Homo sapiens: one gene and its partners. The protein of the gene in region 3 purifies or fractionates together with the protein of the main gene of each other region. This does not show direct contact. Each region holds a gene or a part of one and is shown on either strand. Other genes may lie near its edges. The genes, in order: CARNMT1, BPTF and C3orf49.

Region 1 (3,735 bases), on a different chromosome or scaffold from region 3:
TCATCATGTTGCCCAGGCTGGTCTCAAACTCCGGGGCTCAAGCAATCTGCCTGCCCTGGTCGCCCAAAGTACTGGGATTACAGACATGAGCCACCATGCCTGGCCATAAGAACATCATTTTTTAAAGTTAAATATATACTCACAGTATATCATTTTTATATTGACAAGATGGCCAAAATTTAAAATCCTGACTATATCAAATTTTGGTGATTGGTGAAAATATGGTGTAATTAGGACATTTACACACTAATGGTAAGTGCATACATCAGCGCAACCACTTTGGAAAATTAAATTTAGAGCATTACCTAGTACAACTTAGCATGGTACTTGCCTTATGACCTAGCAATTATATCCTAGAAACTCTTGCAAATGGGCCCCATGAAACATGAACAATCTTTGTCATAGCACTGTTAGAGATAAGAAACAGGTGGGCGCAGTGGCTCATCCCTGTAATCCCTTGGCACTTTGGGAGGCCAATGTGGGCGGATCACTTGAGGTCAGAAGTTCAAGACCAGCCTGGCCAACACGGTGAAACCCCATCTCTACTAAAATATAAAAATTGGCTGGGCATGGTGGCGCCCACCAGTAATCCCAGCTACTTGGAAGGCTGAGGCAGGAGAATCGCTTGAACGCGGGAGGCAGAGGCTGCAGTGAGCCGAGATTGCACCACTGCGTTCCAGCCTGGGCGACAGAGTGAGACTCCATCTCATAAAAAAAAAAAAAAAAAAAAGGAATAAAATATCTGGAAACAACCCAAAGGTCTACTATCAGAAATTATCATATAGTTACTATAGAATGAAGAAATTACAGTATAGTTATACAGTGGAATGCAGCGAAATGAGTAAATTACAGCTCATACAATAATATGTGAAGACTAAACGCTGATCTTTTTTATATTTTCTCTCTTCTCCAAGTTCTTCACTAAGAGGCCTGGGGAGTCATGCCTTACTAATTACGAAATCTCACTGGACAGGTTTTTATTAACCCTATATAATACGACTTACTTTCCAACCTGACTCTGGTATGGCATCTTATGACAAATAGCAGACTCAGAAGGAAATCAGAATATTTTACCCCAAAATATATTTGACATTTTGAAATGGCTGCCACATGGCCAACGGATTTCAATGGCCCCACAAAGCCATGTTTCCTAGGGGAAATATGCATCTGTCAAGAATCTCCATTAATGCAACCAGGCCTTCCTTTCTAGGCCTTTCCTGGATCCAGGAGAGATTAACTGAGAGCCTGATAACATTAAAGTCTAAAAAGTGACATTTAGTATCTCTTCCCTCTGAGGGCTGCTACCTAGGAGGCTTCAATTAACTTAACAAGAACCTTGGCCTTCACAAGCCCCTTAACTCAAGCATTCCTTTCTACTTACCATAGCTTACCTCTATCAACCAACTACCAGCTGAAGAATCCTTAAAACCCACCTATGACTTGTAACCCCCTCTTTAAGATGTCCTACCTTTTGAGTGAGATCAATGTATACCTTGCATGTAATTCCTGTATCTAAAATGTATAAAACCAAGCTGTAACCTGACCACCTGGGGTGCACTTTGTCAGGGTTGTTTGAGATCGTGTAACCACAGGCTGCAGTCACTATCATATTGGCCCAGAACAAACCTCTAAATATATTTTGGCAGAAATTGGTTACTCCCATCACCATCTGGATAACCTCAAGAACATATACATTTGTTGAAAACAATTGCAGTAAAATACATAATGTACAATTGCATTTCATAGAAAACTAAATATTATTTAGGGACTGAGCATATGTGGAAAAACTACACAGAAAGCAAAGAAGTAAAAATTCAGGTTAATGATTCTGAGGGTGAAAGAGACAGGATAATGTGTTTTAAAAACTAGGTGATTTATAAGTGTTCACTGTAATATTCCTTACATTTTATATCTATATATGTATGTGTATATGTTTAAATGTTCTTTGGTATTAATTCAATATTAAATGAAAATGGAAGTATTTTTCATTTTCTATTTCATTTTTCTTCTTTTTTTTTTTTTTTTTTGAGATGGAGTCTTGCTCTGTTGCCCAGGCTGGAATGCAGTAGCACGATCTCAGCTCACTGCAACCTCCCCCTCCCAGGTTCAAGCGACTCTCCTGCCTCAGCCTCCCGAGTAGCTGGGACTACAGGTGCGCGCCACCATGCCCAGCTGATTTTTGTATTTTTAGTAGAGACGGGGTTTCACCATACTGTCCAGGATGGTCTCGATCTCTTGACCTCGTGATCTGCCTGCCTCCGCCTTCCAAAGTGCTGGGATTATAGGCGTGAGCCACCGCACCCAGCCTTCATTTTCATTTTCAATTTCACTTTCATTTTCAATATCTTTGTCATTTGGTTTCTTAAATCTTCATTCATCCAAACAATTTTCTTATTTTTACCCTCTGCCAAATTATTCCAACTGCCAAACAGTAATGAACTTCAGAAGAAGCTCCTGACAAACAACCAAAAACCTGGCTGGTCGCGTTTTTACAAGCTTGTGTTTGGTGGCTTGGTGTGGGGGGCCCTTAGGGATAAGGTGAAGAGATCAAGTTGTCAGAAGCTCCACTGACATGCCCCTCTGGGGAGAGTATAATAATGAGCTTTGAAGTCAGAAAGATCAGGGATGAAATCCAGGTTATGACACCTATTTGCCACATGACACCAGGCAAATTACCGCCTTCCTTTGTCCAACTCTCTCATATACAGAAGCAAGATAAGAATGAACAATGATGATGATCATGGAAGCTGCCATTTGAGATTTAATAAATACCAGGGACTAAACCAAGTCAGTTAATACGGATTATTCTGAAAGATCTTCATAATTAGGTAGGTAGCATTACCTTCCTCTGCCTAGCAGACAGGGTTTCATTGGAAAAATAACGTACTCAAAAGATTTAGCCCAACAGCTGAAAACACAGCAAGCGCTCAAAATATATATACTATATATATACCTACTGTTCAATATACTATATAGAGTATATATACATAGTATATACATAGTATATATGTATATATACATAGTATATACATAGTATATATACTACTATATACATACCATATATATTATATATAGTATATATACTACTATACATACCATATATATTATATACATAGTATATATCTACTATATACAGTATATATACTATATACATACTATATATAGTATAAATAGTATATATAATATAAATAGTATATATAGGATAAATATATATACTATATATATATATCTACTGTTCAAAAAAGGAGTAGGTATATCTCATTTATATTACTAAAATGTTCAAAGCATGAACAATGTAGAAATTAGAAGTACTCAGGAAAGAAGGCCTAATAATTCCTCTTCTAGAGGGAACCACTTCTAACCTTTTGGCACATTTCCGTTTTGCTTAACACAAAGTTGCAGTGGCTCATGCCAGTAATCCCAGTATTTTGGGAGGCCAAGGTGGGAAGCCTGTTTGAGGCCAGGTGTTCAAAACCGGCCTGGGCAATATAGCAAGACCATCCTCTCTACAAAAAAATAAAAAAACAAAATGAGCCAGGCGTGGTGGTGCATGCCTGTAGTCTCACCTACTTGGGAGGCTGAGGTAGGAGAATTGCTTTAGCCCAGAAAGTCAAGGGGGCAGCGAGCTATGATTGTGTCACTGCACTACAGGCTGCGTAACAGAGCAAAAACCCTGTCTCCAAAAAAGAGAAGAAAAAAAAAAGTCATCTAGCATCTTACTTTTTTTAAGCTGAA
Region 2 (3,735 bases), on a different chromosome or scaffold from region 3:
GACCTCCGCCTCCTGGGTTCAAGCAATTCTCCTGCCTCAGCCTCCTGAGTAGCTGAGATCACAGGTGTGCACCACCACACCCAGATAATTTTTGTATTTTTAGTAGAGATCGGGTTTCACCATGTTAGCCAGGCTGGTCTCAAACTCCTGACCTCAGGTGATGCACCCACCTCGGCCCCTCAAAGTGCTGGGATTACAGGCATGAGCCACCGCACCAGCCTATAGTATTAATGTTTATCTTGTAGCTGACTATGTTACTGAATCACAGTTTTTTGTTTTTTTTTTAATTTTTGGACACAGAGCCTCACTCTGTCACCCAGGCTGGAGTGCAGTGGCATGAGCCACCGCACCAGGTCCCCCCCCCCCTTTTTTTTTTTATCCTGCAGTGTTTTAAAACAAATTTCCTAAATCATATTTCACCAAAAATGTTCACAAAGTTTTCTGAAATGTCTGAAGTTCAGGCATTCCTTCTGTGTTTTAGGTCAGCCAGGCATATAGGATTATATGGTACCTTATACTCAATAAGACCTTTGTCTTTTTTTTTTTTTTAAATGAAAAAATGAAACATAACTTGCTGGAAATTACTTGTTTATTTTCACTAAACTTGACATATTAAAGTGCTAATACTCTGGAAATAACGTAAATTATCGTTACATGGTTCTTTTTAGCCAAAAATAATATGGATGAAAATATGGATGAGTCAGATAAAAGAAAATGTTCACGAAGTCCAAAAAAAATAAAAATAGAGCCTGATTCTGAAAAAGATGAGGTAAAAGGTTCAGATGCTGCAAAAGGAGCAGACCAAAATGAAATGGATATCTCAAAGATTACTGAGAAGAAGGACCAAGGTAAGGAGAGTCAGCTGTGGAGGGCAGCCTGGGGGTGATAAGAATGCACTGGATCAGGGTCCCACCACAGGAAAGGTACTGCGTTGTGTTTTCTTGATAACAGCTTTATCAAAACATAATTGATATCCCATACAATTCACCCAATTAAAGTGTAAATTCAGTGGCTTTTAGTATATTCACAAAGTTCAACCATTATTACATCAATCTTAGAACATTTTCATAACCTTGAAAAGAAGCCTCATTCATACCCATTAGCAGTTACTTCCCAACCCCTCCCGAAAGTGCCACCAGCTTAGTGGTCTACTTTCTGTCTCTCTGGATTTGCCTATTTTGGACAGTCCATAGAAATGGAATCAGACAATATGTGGTCCTTTGTGGCTGGCTTCATCCACTTAGCATGGTTTTAAGGTTCATCCATGTTGTAGCATTTATCAGTACTTTCTTTTTGTTTCTGAATAATACTCTGTATGGATATGCCACATTTTGTTATCCATTCATCAGTTGATGGACATTGGGCTGTTTCCTCTTTTGGCTATACGAATAATGCTGCTATGAACATTCATGCAGAAGTTTTTTGTGGCCATGCGTTTTCACTTCTCTTGGCGATATACCTAGGAATGGAATTACTGGATCATATGGTAACTCTGTTTAACCTTTTGAGGAACTACATTGTCTTTTGTAACAAGTCATTTTTAAAAAAAAACTAGATAAGCTAGATAATGCATGTGGCTAGAGATACTTTAAAAAAATATTTTTGGCTGGGCGTGGTGGCTCATGCCTGTAATCTCAGCACTTTGGGAGGCTGAGGTGGGCGGATCACCTGAAGTCAGGAGTTCAAGACCAGCCTGGCCAACATTGCGAAACCCTGTCTCTACTGAAAATTCAAAAATAAGCCAGGCATGGTGGCACATGCCTATAATCCCAGCTACTTGGGAGGCTGAAGCATGAGAATTGCTTGAACCCAGGAGGCGGAGGTTGCAGTGAACTGAGATCATGCCACTGCACTCCAGCCTGGGCAACAGAGTGAGACTCCATCTCAAAAAAAAAAATATATATATATAAATTCCTCCTTTCAGAGTAAAAATTACATTTATATAAATGTCTTTGTTTCACAGATGTGAAGGAGCTCTTAGATTCTGACAGTGATAAACCCTGCAAGGAAGAACCAATGGAAGTAGACGATGACATGAAAACAGAGTCACATGTAAATTGTCAGGAGAGTTCTCAAGTAGATGTGGTCAATGTTAGTGAGGGTTTTCATCTAAGGACTAGTTACAAAAAGAAAACAAAATCATCCAAACTAGATGGACTTCTTGAAAGGAGAATTAAACAGTTTACACTGGAAGAAAAACAGCGACTCGAAAAAATCAAGTTGGAGGGTGGAATTAAGGGTATAGGAAAGACTTCTACAAATTCTTCAAAAAATCTCTCTGAATCACCAGTAATAACGAAAGCAAAAGAAGGGTGTCAGAGTGACTCGATGAGACAAGAACAGAGCCCAAATGCAAATAATGATCAACCTGAGGACTTGATTCAGGGATGTTCAGAAAGTGATTCCTCAGTTCTTAGAATGAGTGATCCTAGTCATACCACAAACAAACTTTATCCAAAAGATCGAGTGTTAGATGATGTCTCCATTCGGAGCCCAGAAACAAAATGTCCGAAACAAAATTCCATTGAAAATGACATAGAAGAAAAAGTCTCTGACCTTGCCAGTAGAGGCCAGGAACCCAGTAAGAGTAAAACAAAAGGAAATGATTTTTTCATCGATGACTCTAAACTAGCCAGTGCAGATGATATTGGTACTTTGATCTGTAAGAACAAAAAACCGCTCATACAGGAGGAAAGTGACACCATTGTTTCTTCTTCCAAGAGTGCTTTACATTCATCAGTGCCTAAAAGTACCAATGACAGAGATGCCACACCTCTGTCAAGAGCAATGGACTTTGAAGGAAAACTGGGATGTGACTCTGAATCTAATAGCACTTTGGAAAATAGTTCTGATACCGTGTCTATTCAGGATAGCAGTGAAGAAGATATGATTGTTCAGAATAGCAATGAAAGCATTTCTGAACAGTTCAGAACTCGAGAACAAGATGTTGAAGTCTTGGAGCCGTTAAAGTGTGAGTTGGTTTCTGGTGAGTCCACTGGAAACTGTGAGGACAGGCTGCCGGTCAAGGGGACTGAAGCAAATGGTAAAAAACCAAGTCAGCAGAAGAAATTAGAGGAGAGACCAGTTAATAAATGTAGTGATCAAATAAAGCTAAAAAATACCACTGACAAAAAGAATAATGAAAATCGAGAGTCTGAAAAGAAAGGACAGAGAACAAGTACATTTCAAATAAATGGAAAAGATAATAAACCCAAAATATATTTGAAAGGTGAATGCTTGAAAGAAATTTCTGAGAGTAGAGTAGTAAGTGGTAATGTTGAACCAAAGGTTAATAATATAAATAAAATAATCCCTGAGAATGATATTAAATCATTGACTGTTAAAGAATCTGCTATAAGGCCATTCATTAATGGTGATGTCATCATGGAAGATTTTAATGAAAGAAACAGCTCCGAAACAAAATCGCATTTGCTGAGTTCTTCAGATGCTGAAGGTAACTACCGAGATAGCCTTGAGACCCTGCCATCAACCAAAGAGTCTGACAGTACACAGACGACCACACCCTCAGCATCTTGTCCAGAAAGCAATTCAGTTAATCAGGTAGAAGATATGGAAATAGAAACCTCAGAAGTTAAGAAAGTTACTTCATCACCTATTACTTCTGAAGAGGAATCTAATCTCAGTAATGACTTTATTGATGAAAATGGTCTGCCCATCAACAAAAATGAAAATGTCAATGGAGAATCTAAAAGAAAAACCGTCATCACAGAAGTC
Region 3 (3,983 bases):
CATCTGCACCCACTCTCCTAGAATATGGATTCCTGGGTCTCATTCCCTGCTGAAGCGGAATTTCTATTTCACTTGAATTTTGCCATAAAACTATGGCTTGGGCACTATGAGTTGTCCCACTTTAGGGATGAGAAAACAAGCATGGGTGGGTTAAAATGAATTGGCCAAGGTCACATAGCTAAGCTAGAAATGAGAACTCATGCATAATTCCCAAATCCACTCTCTTAGCCCCTTAACATTATACACTTCATTCTAGACCATTTTAAAGCTCTTTTCCCCAGTACTGAAACATACAAGACCCTCACTACTCCAAGTGCAGTCTGGCATCATCAGCGTCACCTGCGGGTTTGTTAGGAGTGCAAATTCTTGGATCCCAGCCCAGATGTACTGTATCGAAATCTGCATCTTAAAAAGACCTCCAGGAAGTTTGTGTGCACTTGAAAGCTTGAGAAGTATGCTCCAGATTATTGATTAATGCAAACACAGAAAGCAGAGTAATTCTTGTAACTCCCAGAACCTTTCTAGAGGAGTTTTTCTTGTTAAGCATCTAGTTATTTGACTGAACAACTCAAACCGCGAGAGGGTAACAGGAATAAATCCTAGTGTCTGCTGCCACCTTGTGGTGAGAAGTTCCATCACAGGCAGAATTCGCTCTTCACCACGAAATAAATGGGGCAATGTTGGAAGGGAGGGGTGGATCAGGTCCTCAATTTAGCAATGTACTTTGAGAGACCACTGCAAAATTCCAAGATGTAATGAAAACCACCCTTGGGGTACATTTTGAGATGTCCAAACAACAACTGGCCTTGTCATATGTGTCCCACAGGACACAGAGAACATTCACCAGCTGTAACTGAGAGATCTAACAGAAGCTCAACTTGTGTTAATCAGCGTATCGTTGGTATTCCTATAGGTCCCTACCACTTCAGAGTTCAAATACGCACTTCTGAATGTGGTGGTCAATTAGTGTGTGGGTGTTTTTTGTTGTTGTTGTTGTTGTTTGATTTTTTTTTTCTATCCAAATGCCAGCATTGAGGCAATCAGATCATCATTTCTGTATTTGCCTTGTTCAAGAATCTGTGAAGTGTTCCACAAAGGTCCATGGAATTTCACACAGCTCTGTCAAATACATCACTGGTGACCTCTGTGAAGTTGTAAACAGGGCCAGTCCCACAAATAATGTCTCTAACACCTGGAAGGGAATAAGGGAAAGACTCTAAAAATTTCCTACATATTTTATTCCGAATAGCCCACACCTTGACAGTACATTCAGTCACTGGATGATTTTGTATTGAAGTCTGTAAGTTCAAGAACTAAAACAATCCAAAACGGCTACTACAGGTGAAGTTGAGAGCAATGGCCCAACCTCAGCTGTATCTACCAGAACCCTTTAAGATTGCCTACAGAAAAGTTGGACAGTGCCGAAGATTCCAGCAACTCAAGAAGAAAAATGGCTCATTCAAAAGGAAGGGGATAGAAAGGTAACAGAGATTCATTTCCTTTTCTGTCAAATGAGAGTCTTTGGGTTTGGCATAGTGGCATGTCCTTTTAAGCATTGCATTTAGGAATGAGGACTCTGGATGGATTGGCGGGGAGGGTACTGCGTTGGATCAAGAAATCTAGTGTGACAATGTAAGCTTCATTTTATGATCAGAAACATCTTAATTGTAACAGGGAAAACCTTTCCTTTCCACTCGAAATTAAGTTTCAATGTGGCATAGGAGACTAAAATAAGTTCTGATCCTATGTTGATATTTCAGCATCAGAATTTTGGACATCTCACATCCCGTGAAAATACTATTATTTTGAAAAGTCATTAGTGCATTCTTCGAAATAGGTCCACGATCAGTGCTTTCTTTCTCCTATCCCAGCAATTTGGGCTGCTGAAATATGTACTAATCACATTTCACTATGGACACATTGTTTAATGTAACGTTAAAACTGCCTTAGACTTGCTATTTTTTTGCCAATGACAAAACCATATAGACAGGTATGAAACATCCAAAATATAATATATTTTAATTTGGAAAGTCAGTGTGGTGATTTATTTTCCAATTTCTTTGGGCTTCTCTCTTACCAGGTCCATGGGCTATAGTTCAGACATGTAGAAGTGAGGTGTTTTAATGAGTCCTGGAAGCATCAAAGACCAAGCTTGTGAACTTCCATGGACAAAATAAAATACTGCAGAGATTTCCACTTTCAATGAAAAGTAGGCACTCCGGGGGAAGCAATACAACCAAATAAATTCAGTACCAACACAAAAATATTTAAAAACTTAAGAAGGGGAGGGTTCTGCTCATATCAGAAATTGCAGCAGTGTGTTCCTAGGCTCTGGAGCTAAATCACCTTTGTTAATTATGTTCTAGATAGATTGGGGATGAGAGTGGGGAGGATGGGAATGGGAAACACCTTCTAGAGATTCTGAGACCACTTAGAACTGGGCTTTTAACATGGGTGGTCTTCAAAATTCCTGAATCTCCTGAAACTGTATTTGCATTGTTCTGTGTCACAGTATGTGTATGTGTGTACATGTTTATAGTAGTAGAATCACTTAAAAATTAAATTATTATTAAAGGAGTCTCAGAGGGGTCTACGGGAGATTAATCCTACCCATAAGTTATCTCTGGGTGAATTAGGAAATGGTGCTCCCTCCTCAGGACATTTTACTGCCATCTGCCAGAAAATCATTATAATAACTATACACAAGTCTAAGGATGAAATTGAATAGCACCCCCTAGAAGTCATATATGTACATTTTGCAGAACCCTGCCCTTGGTCCCAGAAGGGAGGCTGCTAGCTTCTCCCTTATTTTGCCCTCTAGTGTGGGCTCCCTGCTTGCCTTTTAAGTTAATGGATTTTCCCCATAAGTTAATGGCTTTTCCCCACTGTTCTGATCCACATGGTAATAAAAAGTATCATTTATGGAATGCTTTTTAAGGTTCCAAACACATGAATTATTTCCTTTTATTTTCATAATTCTGAAAAGATTATGCCCATTTTCAAATGAGAAGACCAAAGCTTATAGAGGTTACATGACATGCCCAAGGTCACAGAGTTAGGAATTGTCCTGAGTTAAACCAATACCATTCAACTCCAGTGTCTAGGCTGTCACTGAACCACTTCCCATATATAATTACAGAAAAAGGCTGAATGATTTGGGTTCTGTTTAGAACAGTGTTTTCCTGGAGAGTAGTACATATGCTACTGATGGTACATGAGATATTTTAGGTAATATATGAAGAACATTGTTAATGGTTATAAATTTGTTTTAATCCATATTAGAAATATATGTTATATATTTAATACAACGTAATAGCATAATATAAAACCTGGGATTTCACCCAGAGAAATGAAAACTTATGTTCATACAAAACCTATAGATAAATGTTTATAGCAGCTTTATTCATAATAGCCCCAAACTGGAAACAACCCAAGTATCCTTCAATCAGTGAATAGTTAAACAAAGTGTGGTACATTCACATCATGGACTATTACTCAGCAATAAAAAGATATGAACAATTAATACACAAAATCTGGATGAATGCCCAAAGAATTATGCTGAGTGAAAAAAAGCATATCTCAAAAAATTACATGATGTATATTTCCATTTACATAACATTCTTGAAAGGACGAGAATTACGCAAACAGAAGACAGATTCGTAGATGCCGGTTTAAGAAAGGGGGGACCAGTGGATAGTGGATGTGGCTATAAAACATGAGGGATCCTGGTGTTACTGGAAATGTTCTGTATTCTGACTGTTTCAGTGTCAATATGCTGGTTGTGAAAATATAGTTTTGCAAGATGTCATCATTTGGGGAAACTAGGTAAAGAGCACACAGAATCTCCCTGTATTTCTTTCTTTTTTTTTTGTTTTTTTGAGACAGAGTCTCGCTCTGTCGCCCAGGCTGGATTGCAGTGGCGCGATCTCGGCTCACTGCAAGCTCTGCCTCCCGGGTTCACAACATTCTCCTGCCTCAGCCTC

Evidence for each region.
Region 1: the proteins of C3orf49 (region 3) and CARNMT1 purify together in Homo sapiens (affinity purification with mass spectrometry; one large-scale study listed by BioGRID and IntAct). This does not show direct contact.
Region 2: the proteins of C3orf49 (region 3) and BPTF purify together in Homo sapiens (affinity purification with mass spectrometry; one large-scale study listed by BioGRID and IntAct). This does not show direct contact.

The regions. Positions count from the first base shown.
Region 1 is NC_000009.12:75,018,259-75,021,993, forward strand, and holds part of CARNMT1 (carnosine N-methyltransferase), read right to left. Parts: intron 1-3,735.
Region 2 is NC_000017.11:67,908,914-67,912,648, forward strand, and holds part of BPTF (nucleosome-remodeling factor subunit BPTF), read left to right. Parts: intron 1-668; coding exon 669-848; intron 849-1,963; coding exon 1,964-3,735. UniProt on the Homo sapiens protein: Regulatory subunit of the ATP-dependent NURF-1 and NURF-5 ISWI chromatin remodeling complexes, which form ordered nucleosome arrays on chromatin and facilitate access to DNA during DNA-templated processes such as DNA replication, transcription, and repair.
Region 3 is NC_000003.12:63,818,116-63,822,098, forward strand, and holds the start of C3orf49 (putative uncharacterized protein C3orf49), read left to right. Parts: upstream 1-1,183; 5' UTR 1,184-1,356; coding exon 1,357-1,481; intron 1,482-3,983.